2 separate regions of the Homo sapiens genome follow, and region 1 is linked to region 2. Evidence: fine-mapped expression QTL. A gene starts in region 2. The other region holds a variant in brackets. All regions are shown on one strand. Distances are from middle to middle.

Region 1 (5,378 bases), 140 kb before region 2:
GGCTATAGTTGGATGCCTCCTGATCAAGGCCATTCCAAAGTCCTCCTCCAGTCTGACATAGACAGATGTAAGCTATTAATAATAGCCACTCTTTATTAAATAATCTCTTATGTGCCATGGAGCTTACTAGGTACTTTAAGACAATACCACATTGTAAGACACAATAGCCTTTTAGGATTAGGAGGATCGATTCAATTTGTACAAATGTGGAAAATGAGGCTAGGACAAGCTGCCACTTGTGAAGGGTGACCTTGGATGCAAGTTATTTTAAGGTGTCTGGGTTTCAGCATCCTCAACTGCAATAGGAAGTGAAAATAGAAACCACTTCCTAGAGCTGTTGTGGGTATCCGATGAGTCCCTCTGCCCATGGTATGGGGCCCCATGGATGATTCAAGGGCTGTTTCTTGGAGGCAAGTCAAATTTCATCACAAGTCAAGGGTTTAACAGATTCTCCCCCTGCCCTCAAAACAATGACTCCCTTCCCTTTTCCCATCATCACACTTACATCATACTTGACCGTGAGCGTGATGGGCACAGTTGGCAACTTCTGAGCCCAGTCCACAGTAGCCTGTGCCAGGAGGAAGGCTACATGGTCTGTGGCCACCGCCACAGCCGTGGCCACGAGGAGCAGGGCAAGCAGCCCCAGCCTTAGAAGACAACTCAACAGCTCCTCCTGTGACAGCCTCAGCTGAGCCGCCTGGAGCAGCCAGGTGGGTGGAGGGGCCAGGAGGTGTGTAGCCTGGGCCTGTGCCAACCGCTGGGTCAGCTGTTGAGTGGCGTAGATATTGTCAAACCGCAGGTCTGTCAGGTAGCAATGGAGGTACCATGCCGACTCCACCAGGAGGCCCAACATAAACAGCCCTGTGACCACTCGCTGGGTCCCTAGCGCTGCTGCCCGGGCCAGGGACTCCAGGCCAGAGAAATCCTCCAGGACCTGCTGAGTGACCCTGAGCATGTGAAGGTAGAAGGCAGAGCCATTGTCCTGGGCCTCAAATGTCAGGCCCCGGCTGCCTGCCTGGCCTGTGGGGCCCAGAGCCCTGGATGCTGCATGCAGCTGGTGAGTGGTATTGAGGAGACTCTCCAGGGAGCCCTCGGTGACACACCTCAGCACCTGCCCGGCCGCACCCACGTTGGCCAGGACGTTGGGCACCACAGCAATGGCCAGGGTGGCAGTGCTGTAGGACAGGAGCAGCCGGCGGCCCTGCTCCATACCCAGGGTGGGCACGCTGAGTGCAAACAGGCAGCGGACTGGGGGTACCAGGCCCAGGCTCAGGAAGACCAGGAGGCCACAGACAGTGGCAACCATGGCTGAAGGTCCAGGAGGATAAAGCAGCAAGGATGCCAGCCAGTGATAAACCAGACCTGCAGCAGCAGCAGCCAGGGAGGCACACAGGAGGAGCTGGGTCAGCAGCTGGCCACAGCTGGCTGGAACAGGCTGGGAGAAGGCGTCCCAGGCAGCCTGCAGTGGGGCAAGGGCCTTCCAGAACCCCAAGTGCCAGGACCTCCACCTGCACACAAGGAAATTGAAGGGCATCTCTATCAGGAGGTGGGTGGGTGGGTGTCTGTCCACTGCCCCTGCCCCACATACCCATCACCAGGCTCTGCTAACAGACTCCACCCTTGTAGTTACCCAGGTGGACCAATCAGAGTAAGTCACTGTATACCCACGTGACACAAGCTGAACCAATCAGAGCCTTCCCCAGGATTACTCTCGCTGGAACTGTCAGGGAAGAGCCCAATTCCCATGCAGTACCTGAGGATGTGAGGATGAAAGTCTGCCCTGTTTGAGTCCATTATTACAGTTTTGTGAAGGCAACTGGCCCAAGAGAATGAAAGAGTCATGGAGCGAGAAGCACAGGTGAAAGAGAGAGAATGAGTAAGAGGAGAGAGAAGAAGAGAAACGATTTCACTTGAATTAATAGTCTTGGTGGCTTGCTGTATGATTCTGGACCTTCTATTCTTTCTGAACTTCAGGGTCTCCTCTATAATTTAGGGGTGAGGAGGGTGAACTAGTTGGCCTGTGAGGGACTTTTATATTCTATCATCCTTATATTTATTCATTCAACAAGTGTTTATCAAGCAACGACTTTGTGTTAACCATTGGAGAAACAGGAATGAAAAAAACAGAAGTCCCTACCTTCGTGGGGCTTGCACTATGTTAAGAGCGATGGCAGAGGAGTAGTAAGGAAAGCTTGGATTCTGAACACATTTTGTTGGCAGAGTCAACAAGATTTGCAGAGGCTGATTGGTTGTGGGGTGTGAGAGAAAGAGGGGAGTCAAGGATGACGAGGTGCTTTTGTGTCTGAGCAACTGGAAGCACCAAGGTGTCATTTCCTGAGATGAGAACTCTGTGGTCAAAACAGGTTTGAGTGGAGGGGGAGAGAGGAGGAATTCAGTTCAGAACTCTTAAATTTGAGATTCAGTTGAGCCATTCCGTGGAGCTTTTGACGACGTGGTTGGAAATAGAAGTCAGGAATTCAGAGGGGAGGTCAGGCTGGAGTTATAACATTGGGAGTCTGATTATTAGATGTCTCCCAACTTTATATCCCTACCTAAAGCCATGTGCACCATGAGATTCCTCAAGAGAGTGTGTCACTGGGGAGGAAAGACATCCAAGGACATGCCTCAAGG[C/T]GCTCCAAGGTTAGGGGCTCTTAGATAAGGAGGAACCAGCAAAAGAGACTGAGAAACCAATGTGGTGCTTAGGAAGCCAAATAAACAAAATGTTTCAAGGAGAAAGGAGTGATCAAGTACGTCAAATGCAGCCAACAGGTCAAGAATGATGAGGACTGAGCAATGCCTATTAGCCGCTTAGAGGTCACTGTTGACCTTGGCAGGGAGAGTTCGGTGGCTTTTGGGGCCAAAATCCAACTAGACTGGGTCCAGGAGAGACGGGAAGGAGAAGAATAGGAAACACAGATACAGACAACTCTTTCCGGTAATTTCTACACTAAAACAGCAGGGAGATGAAGCAGTGGCTGGTAGCTATGGGAAATTGGACCAAGAGAATTCATGTAAAGGGAGGAAATCTATAGCATGTTTGCAGGTGGGAGATCTCATCGAGAGGGGAGACATTGACAAAGGGGAGACTCCCTGGAGTGACACCTGTAGGGGTGGAGGCAGAGAGTGAGACTGAGAACATGCAAGGTGGGGCTGGTCTTAGAATAGAGCAGGGGTCGTTCATCCTTAATAGCAGGTGGGAAAGCAGAGGAAATAGGTACAGATGATGGCGAATGAACAGGCAGCGTGTATGCACCTGTGAAAAGTATCCTCTGATATACGCAGAGCAGAGTAATGTTAAGGGCATGACCTCTGGACTGCCTGGGCTCAAATTTCTGCTCCACCACTTGCCAGCTATGTGAACTTGGGTACATATCACAACCTTTCTGTGTCTCAGCTGTCTCATCTGTAAAATGGTGCAATAAAAGTATGCACCTCCTGGGGTCACTTTGTTTCTGGCACATGGTAAGTATCACATCAGCTATTACCTACCACTAGAGTCAACTCCACCGGAGCAGGGACTTTGTCCGTTTTGGTCACTGATATGTCCCAAGTGCCTACAATAGTGTCTGCCATGTTGTGAGTGCTCCAAAACTATTCATTAAGAGTAGCATGACCGATTGCTTCTGTTTGCTCAGGTTGGCAGGAAGCAAGGTCAGCAGAGAAGGTAAGATGCTGGCGGAGGTGATGGATGCTTGAAGAGGAAGAAGAAAGTACAAAATGGTTGCCCAGGAAAGTGGGAGAACAAACGAACTGGGGCAATAACATATGTGCTGGGCAACACTGAGGCCCACTTGAGGTTGGAGATCATACATTATCTTAAGTGAGAGCAGGCAGAAAGGTTATACGGGAATATGGTTATAAAGGGCAGGGAGGGTGGTGGGGAGGCTGTCACTGTGTTGGTTACAGGCAAAGCTGCTGACTTGCTCCACCATCAACAGCTTGAAGGATAAGCATGTGACTGGGTCTAGTTGATCCAAGTACCTCTGATCCCCTGGCCACCGTGACTGGTGCAGGGATTGCACCTGACCGGAGATGGACCAATAGAGCTTTCCTCAGGATTTTGCTGCAACGACAAAAAAACTGCCCTTTGTTGCCTTGAGAGCTAAGCTGGTAGGAAGATGCCTCAAGCCTTGGGGACCACCATGTAGTATGAGTCGGCCTGGGATGAAGGCAACACAAGGAAAACAGTGTTAGGAAACAGACAGAGAGTCCCAGTGGCCTTGTTGGAGGACCTGGATCCAGAAATGCCTGAAGCCGAAATCTATGCCGGACCACACACTAGGAGATGTCTGTTTTTCTACAGGCAGTGTAAGATCAATCTGTCACTTGCAACTCAATGAGTCCTGACTAATACAGAAACCTTTGTCACAGGGCTTCTGGGACAATAAAATGAAATAATCCATGTAAAGAAGTTTACACAGGGTCTGGCACAGAAGAGGGATCCTATAAAACTGCACCACTTGTTACTCTGATGATACTTATGTCAACGATGTAAATGTTTCACTCGAGTCTCCTCTGTGCCCAGGCTCTGTGCTGACCCCTGTGGACACAAAGATGAATTAAGTCCTGGTCCCACTAAAGGAGTTCACAGTCTAATTGAGGAGACTTAAATAGACCATTAGAGTTTAAGTTCATTAACAAAGAATTCTGAGCATAGTATGCCTGGGCCTGGACTGGGGTGGGATAGATGGAGAGTGACCCAGTTTTACCTGGGAGTCAGGAAGGCTCCCTGGAAGAGGTGACATTCCAGCTGGGGGTGGAAGGACAAGTGTCAGTTTGTGGGTGAAGAAGGGAGTTGGACATCCCTGACAGAAGGAACAGCGTGTGCAAAGGTCCTGTGCTCTGACCATCGGGAAATAGGGAGTTGGGAGAACCAGAACAGTGGGAAGCTGAGATGCAGTGAGGCCTGTGGGGCTGGAGTGAAGGTCACAACCTTGAAGCCCTAAAGGCTGAATCATATGCAAATGTGCCTTATTGTGGCCCACTCTGTGTGTGTGTGTGTGTGTGTAAGCTGCCCCCATTTGGAAATAAGGAAGTTTCACATTAAAATCTGGGTTTCCAGCTTTTCTTGAGAGATAAGAAGATCTGGGTTAGAGCTCCCACCTTTGCAACAGGTAGCTGGAGCTGAGTATCCACTACCCACCTTTGACAGGGGAGCAGCCCTGCAGACTGCATCCTGCTGATCAATGAACGGGTCCGTCTGCACACCCAGGTGGCCTTCCACAGGTGCAACCCCTTCCCAGCTCCCGAAGGCATTTGAATTTGGGACTAAACACCCCCTTCTACTATATAATTAATATTTGGAACACAGTAGCTTTTGGAATAATAGCTAATAATAAAAACAATTTTAAGGATTGAAAGCCAGTCCTAAGTCATAT
Region 2 (5,378 bases):
GGACTGAATATAATCTCGAACAGTCACTGAGCCTTCAATTTCTTCCATATATAAGCAGTTGGAAGCATAGTCCACAAAAAAGACAACTGGGGCAGATATTCCTGAAATCAAGACATAAGTGGTTATTGGGTTGGATTTTTTTTAACGGGTAAACTTAATTTTCAAAGATTAAGCCAGTTTTTCCATCTATATCTACTTATTTCAGGACTATTGAGGAATGCTACAGGAAATGGTACAACTGAACTCATCTGGAATATTCCCCTGCTCATGCCCACTGCAGGACTATGCCTGGGAACACCCCACAGCTAAACTGAGGAGGCCATAGCTTCCTCCTCCCTTCCAAACCACCCTTTCTCACTGGACTTCATTTGTCACACTCACTCTCTAAAAAACAAACAAAACAAAGGCCGGGTGTGGTGGCTCATGCCTGTAATCCCAGCACTTTGGGAGGCGGAGGCAGGCGGATCACTTGAGGTCAGAAGTTCGAGACCCCCATCTCTACTAAAAATACAAAAATTAGCCAGGTGTGGTGGCTCACGCCTGTAGTCCCAGCTACTCGGGAGGCTGAGGCAGGAGAATAGCTTGAACTCAGGGAGCGTAAGTTGCAGTGAGCTGAGATTGTGCCACTGCACCACTCCAGCCTGGGTGACAAAGTGAGACACTGTCTCAAAAAACAAAAACAAAGAGCAAGGCACAGCCCAGTCAGAGCAGTTTCTACTGATGAGGACACAAACAGGAGGCCAAGCAGTGTGCTAGCTTCGAGGTTCATCTTCGTAGTCAGAGAGGACAGGGTTCAAATCCCAGCTGCTTTTCTTATTAGTTGTCTAATCTAATCTTAAAATTACATTAACTTCTCTAAGCCTCAGTTTCTGCTACTATACAAGGAACAATAGCTCCAATAAACTCAATGAATCTTTACTGAAAGTCAACCAGGCTCAGTATACTTTTCTAGAAACTGAGAGATGTTATCAATGGGGATACAGCAATAAACAAGCCAGCTATAATACAATCTCTGCTTAACGAAACAGATCATGAGGCTGAAAACAGAAATATGAATACACAAATAACTTCATGAAATCTTAAGTCTCTGAAAGGGCAGCAATGTGTCCGCTTGTTGGCTACTGAATATCCCCCACCCAGATCTCCCAGCACTTAACAATGTCCTGGTACCCACTGGTACCTAAAAAATACTGATAAAAGAAAGGCAAGAAGCGTAAAAGTAAAAAGCCAGGGCTTCTGAGTCAGAGGCATAAGGAGCTGAGGGCCTGGACCGGCCACTTAGTAACCGTGTAACCTTGGGCAAGTTACTTCTCTCTGAGTGTCACTTTCTCATCTGAGGACAAAGTTTATGGTGCTGGCGCACAATGATGTTTAATGAAAAAATAGGCAATTTAATGAAATCCAACATTTATTGGGCACTATGTGCCAGGCACACATTTGAACATAATACGTGACACACATACCTCCTCTAATGGTCACAACATCCCTATGACATGGATACTGCTACTATGTCTCCCATTTTACAGGTGAGAAAACCGAGGCTGAGAGGCTAAATAACTTGTTGAAAGGCTACACAAGCAGCAGAGTTAGTATTTCAACCCAGGGAGCCTGGCTCCAGTGGGGCAAGTACTTGTCATTACATGTTTCTTAAAACTAATAAATGGAAAGATAATGATCGAAAATTGAAACGAGTCAAATGGGGAAACCAAGGCTCAGGGAAGTTAAACATGTTCAACATTGAGCAATAATGACAGATCCCAGATTTGAACCAGGCAGAACGGCCTCAGGACAAAAGCTTGACGCTGCATGGCCACGTGGTTTCTTAAGACTTAACGAATGAAAAAAGGGATGAAAGAATAACATTTCCGAAAGGCCGGACACCGCAGAAGGCACAGAAGGAGAAACTGAGGGAAATCCAGCTTCGGAGCGCAGGGGAGTCCCTCACCCGCCCAGGCCCCAGAGCCTCGGGGCCGCCCACGCCGGGATCCCGGCCCACCTTACCAGCGCGGCGACAGCGGAGGAGCGCCCGGGCCTCCTGCACCGTCCGCCGTCTGCCAAGCCGCGCCTCCAGCGCCGGGTGCCGGTAGCCCTTGGGGAAGCGGTGCTTGATCACCGCCGCGCGGCCCTGGAAGCGGCCACGGAACACGCGCGCCTCGGCACCCTGCTTCACCAGCTCCAGGCCGCTCAAGAAGCGGCTGCTCCGCTCCCGGGCTGCGGCCAGAGCCTCAGCCTCCGGGGCGGGCTCCTCGCCATCGGCCGGCGTAGTAGCTCTGGCCGCCGCCATGACTGCTCGGCGCAACAGCTCCAACCGATCAGCTGTCTCTGAAAACTGTCGCGATGCTTCGGCTCGCTTCGGAAATCCTGGGACTTCTTCGGCAATCCTGGGACTTCTTCGGCTACCCGAATGCGTCCACCCCGGACACTTCCGGCCTGTAAGTGGTTACGCCTCCCAACTTTTCGGCTCTCTGAAGCCTGAGGTTCCCTGCAGGAAGGGCTCTTGTGGCCCCGCCTTCCGCCTCTTCGGCTATCTCCGTACACGTTCGGCAACGCTCAGTAAGTGGCTCTTCCCGACTCCTTGGCTCTCCGGAAATCTTCGGTGACTCTCGCAGCCGGCTTTGGGGGCCCACCTCTCAGTTGGTCGTCTCTTTCCGGAAAACTTCGGCGCCTCTCGAGAAAAACGTCGGACGCGCTTTGCTCTCTTCAGAAGTCTCTTCCGGGACAGCTGTACCCTCTAGTAGTCTCTTTTTGGAACTCCTCTTCCCCTGACTCCTACATTCCCCCCAAAATGTGCTCATACAAGTCAGAGTCGGAAGGGTCAGACAATGAACCATGTTTCCGACATCCTCTTAAGTGCTAGGATAACTACCATTTAGTGCATTCAGAAGAAATAAGGTTAAATGATGAAAATCCTTACAGAAAAGAAAATTGAGACTCAGAGCTGGCAGAGGGGGTGGTAAGATGGGGTGGGGAGTGGGGGCTGGGGAATCCGGGAAAGTCTTCCGGAGACAGAACCTAAACTGAATTGGGAATAATTAAACTTTTTCAGTTTCTACCTGTTTCATTACAAAGCTTATAATAACACAGGCTGTAGCAAATTCTTACAATACGGAACTTTGCACACGCACACATAAATAAATAAACTACCTATCCCCCTTGTGACACTGCTGGCCGTTAGTTTCTTTCCAGAATTTTCTTTCATTCAGTGTGCACACTCACACATCGTTGTGGCGTTTTTTCCAACATAAATGACATCATACTGTGGGTTCTTTGGCAACTTGCTTTTCATTTTCCTAAACAATTTATCTCAGACTATATTCCATATCAATACATACAGAGCTACCACGTCCTTCTACCTGGTCAGGCAGTTTCTTGTTGCTAAACAGTTGTTTCCAGTTTGTTGTTTCTCAGGAAAACACTTTACTTACTATTGCCAGTTTATTATAAAAGATAGTATAAAAGATAAAAATGAACAGCCAGATGAAGACGTACATAAGGAAAAGTAAAAATTGTACGTGTTTATCGTAAGTAACATGTTTTGAAATATGTATACATTGTGGAATGGCTAAATCCAGCTAGTTAACGTTACCTAACATACTGATCATTTCGGGGGTGAGGACACTTAAAATCTATTATCTTAGCATTTTTCAAGAATACAACCCATTGTTATTATCTATAGTCACCATGTCGTGCAATAGATTTCATGAATGTTTCCTCCTATCTAACTGAAATTTTGTATCCTTTGACCAACTTCTCAAAATCCTCCCTATCTCCCTCCCCCTACCCCACCGCCTGGTAACCACCATTCTACTCTGCTTGCATGAGTTCAACTTTTCTTACCTTCCTCATATAAGTGAGATCATGGGATATTTGTCTTTCTGTGCCTAGCTTATTTCATTTAACACAATATCCTCCTGTTCCATCCATGTTGCTGTAAATGACAGCATTCCATTCTTTTTAAAGGCTGAATAGTATCCCATTGTGTATATAAATGTACCATATTTTTATCCATTCATTTAGTGATGGACACTCAGATTGAGAATTGTGAATGATGCTGCAATTAACATGGGACTGCAGACATCTCTTCAATATACTGATTTTGTTTCCTTTGGATATGTACCCAGTAGTAGGGTTGCTGGATCATAAGGTAGTTCTATTTTTATTTTTTTTGAAGAACCTCCATACTGTTGTCCATAATGTCTGTACTAATTTACATTCCTATCAACAGGGTGCAACGGTTCCCTTTTCTCCACATCCTTGCCAACACTTATTATCTTTCTTATGTTTTAAAATAGCGATTCTAACAGGTCAGAGGTGATATCTCATTGTGGGTTTAATTTGCATTTCGCTGATGATTAGTGATGTTGAGCATTTTTTTTTAATATACCCGTTGTCCATTTTTATGTCTTCTTTTGAGAAAGATTTCTTTGGATCTTTTGCCTACTTTTAATTCAGGTTTTGTCCTTTCTTACTATTGGATTGTATTCCTTATATATTTGGATATTAACCCCTCATCAGATGTATGGTTTGCAAAAATTTTCTCCCATTCTGTAGTTTGTCTTTTCACTCTTTTTTTTTCTTTTTTCTTGACTGTGCAGAAACGTTTTAGTTTGATGCAATTCCATTTGTCTATTTTCACTTTTGCTGCCTGTGTTTTGAGAGTCCTACACAAAAAATCGTTGCTCAGGCCAATGCCATGACATTTTGTCCCTGTTTTCTTATAAGAGTTTTATAGTTTTGGCTCTTACATTTAAGTCTAATCCATTTTGAGTTGATTTTTGCATATGATGTAAGATAAGAGTCTAAATTCTTTCACATGAATATCCAGTTGTCCCAACACCATTTATAGAAAAGACTGTCCTTTCTCCATTACGCGTTCTTGGCATGTTTGATGAAACTCAATTGACTATAGTGCGTGGATTTATTTCTGGGCTCTCTATTCTGTTCCATTGGTCTATGTGCCTGTTTTTATGCCAGTGACATGCTGTTTTGATTACAATAACTTTGTAGTATATTTTGAAGTCAGGCAATATGATGCCTCCAGCTTTGTTCTTTTTGCTCAAGATTGCTTTGACTATATGGAGTCTATTATGATTCTATATAAATTTTAGAATTTTTTATTTCTACAAAAATGTCATTGGAATATTGATAAGAATTACATGGAATCTGTAGGACATTTTAACAATGTTACTTCTCCAGTTTTGTTTCATTTTTTTTTGTTTTGTTGTCTCTTATAAACAGTGCTGCAGTGAGCAGGCTTATCCAGCCATCTTTGCACACATGAATGTTTCTGAGGACATCTTTCTACAGGTGATATTGCTGGGTTGTAGGTGACAAGCACTTTGAAACTCGACTCCTCAGCCAAACTACCCTCCCAAAGT

Alleles and levels. Positions count from the first base shown, and alleles are read on the strand shown. Sizes are in standard deviations (SD) of each study's normalised expression.
As copies of T replace C in region 1, the expression in adrenal gland of the gene that starts at base 2,314 in region 2 goes down (small effect, 0.29 SD a copy in GTEx).

The links. PIP is the estimated chance that this variant, and not a neighbour inherited with it, causes the effect.
Region 1: its variant is fine-mapped to the expression of TP53RK in adrenal gland (GTEx, PIP 0.98).

Annotation. Positions count from the first base shown.
Region 1 is chr20:46,544,822-46,550,199 of GRCh38, forward strand. It overlaps OCSTAMP (osteoclast stimulatory transmembrane protein), which reads right to left. Exons shown (of 3, transcript NM_080721.3): 2 at 506-1,508. Among named protein-coding and RNA genes, the nearest start is that of OCSTAMP, 3.1 kb to the right of the region's middle. RefSeq lists enhancers at 139-990, 197-266. The variant C/T (reference allele first, on the strand shown) is at 2,632.
Region 2 is chr20:46,687,131-46,692,508 of GRCh38, forward strand. It overlaps TP53RK (TP53 regulating kinase), which reads right to left and starts at 2,314. Exons shown (of 2, transcript NM_033550.4): 1 at 2,002-2,314; 2 at 1-101. The coding sequence starts at 2,284. It overlaps TP53RK-DT (TP53RK divergent transcript), which reads left to right and starts at 2,169. Exons shown (of 1, transcript NR_186399.1): 1 at 2,169-3,159. RefSeq lists a silencer at 1,893-1,942 and an enhancer at 2,173-2,762.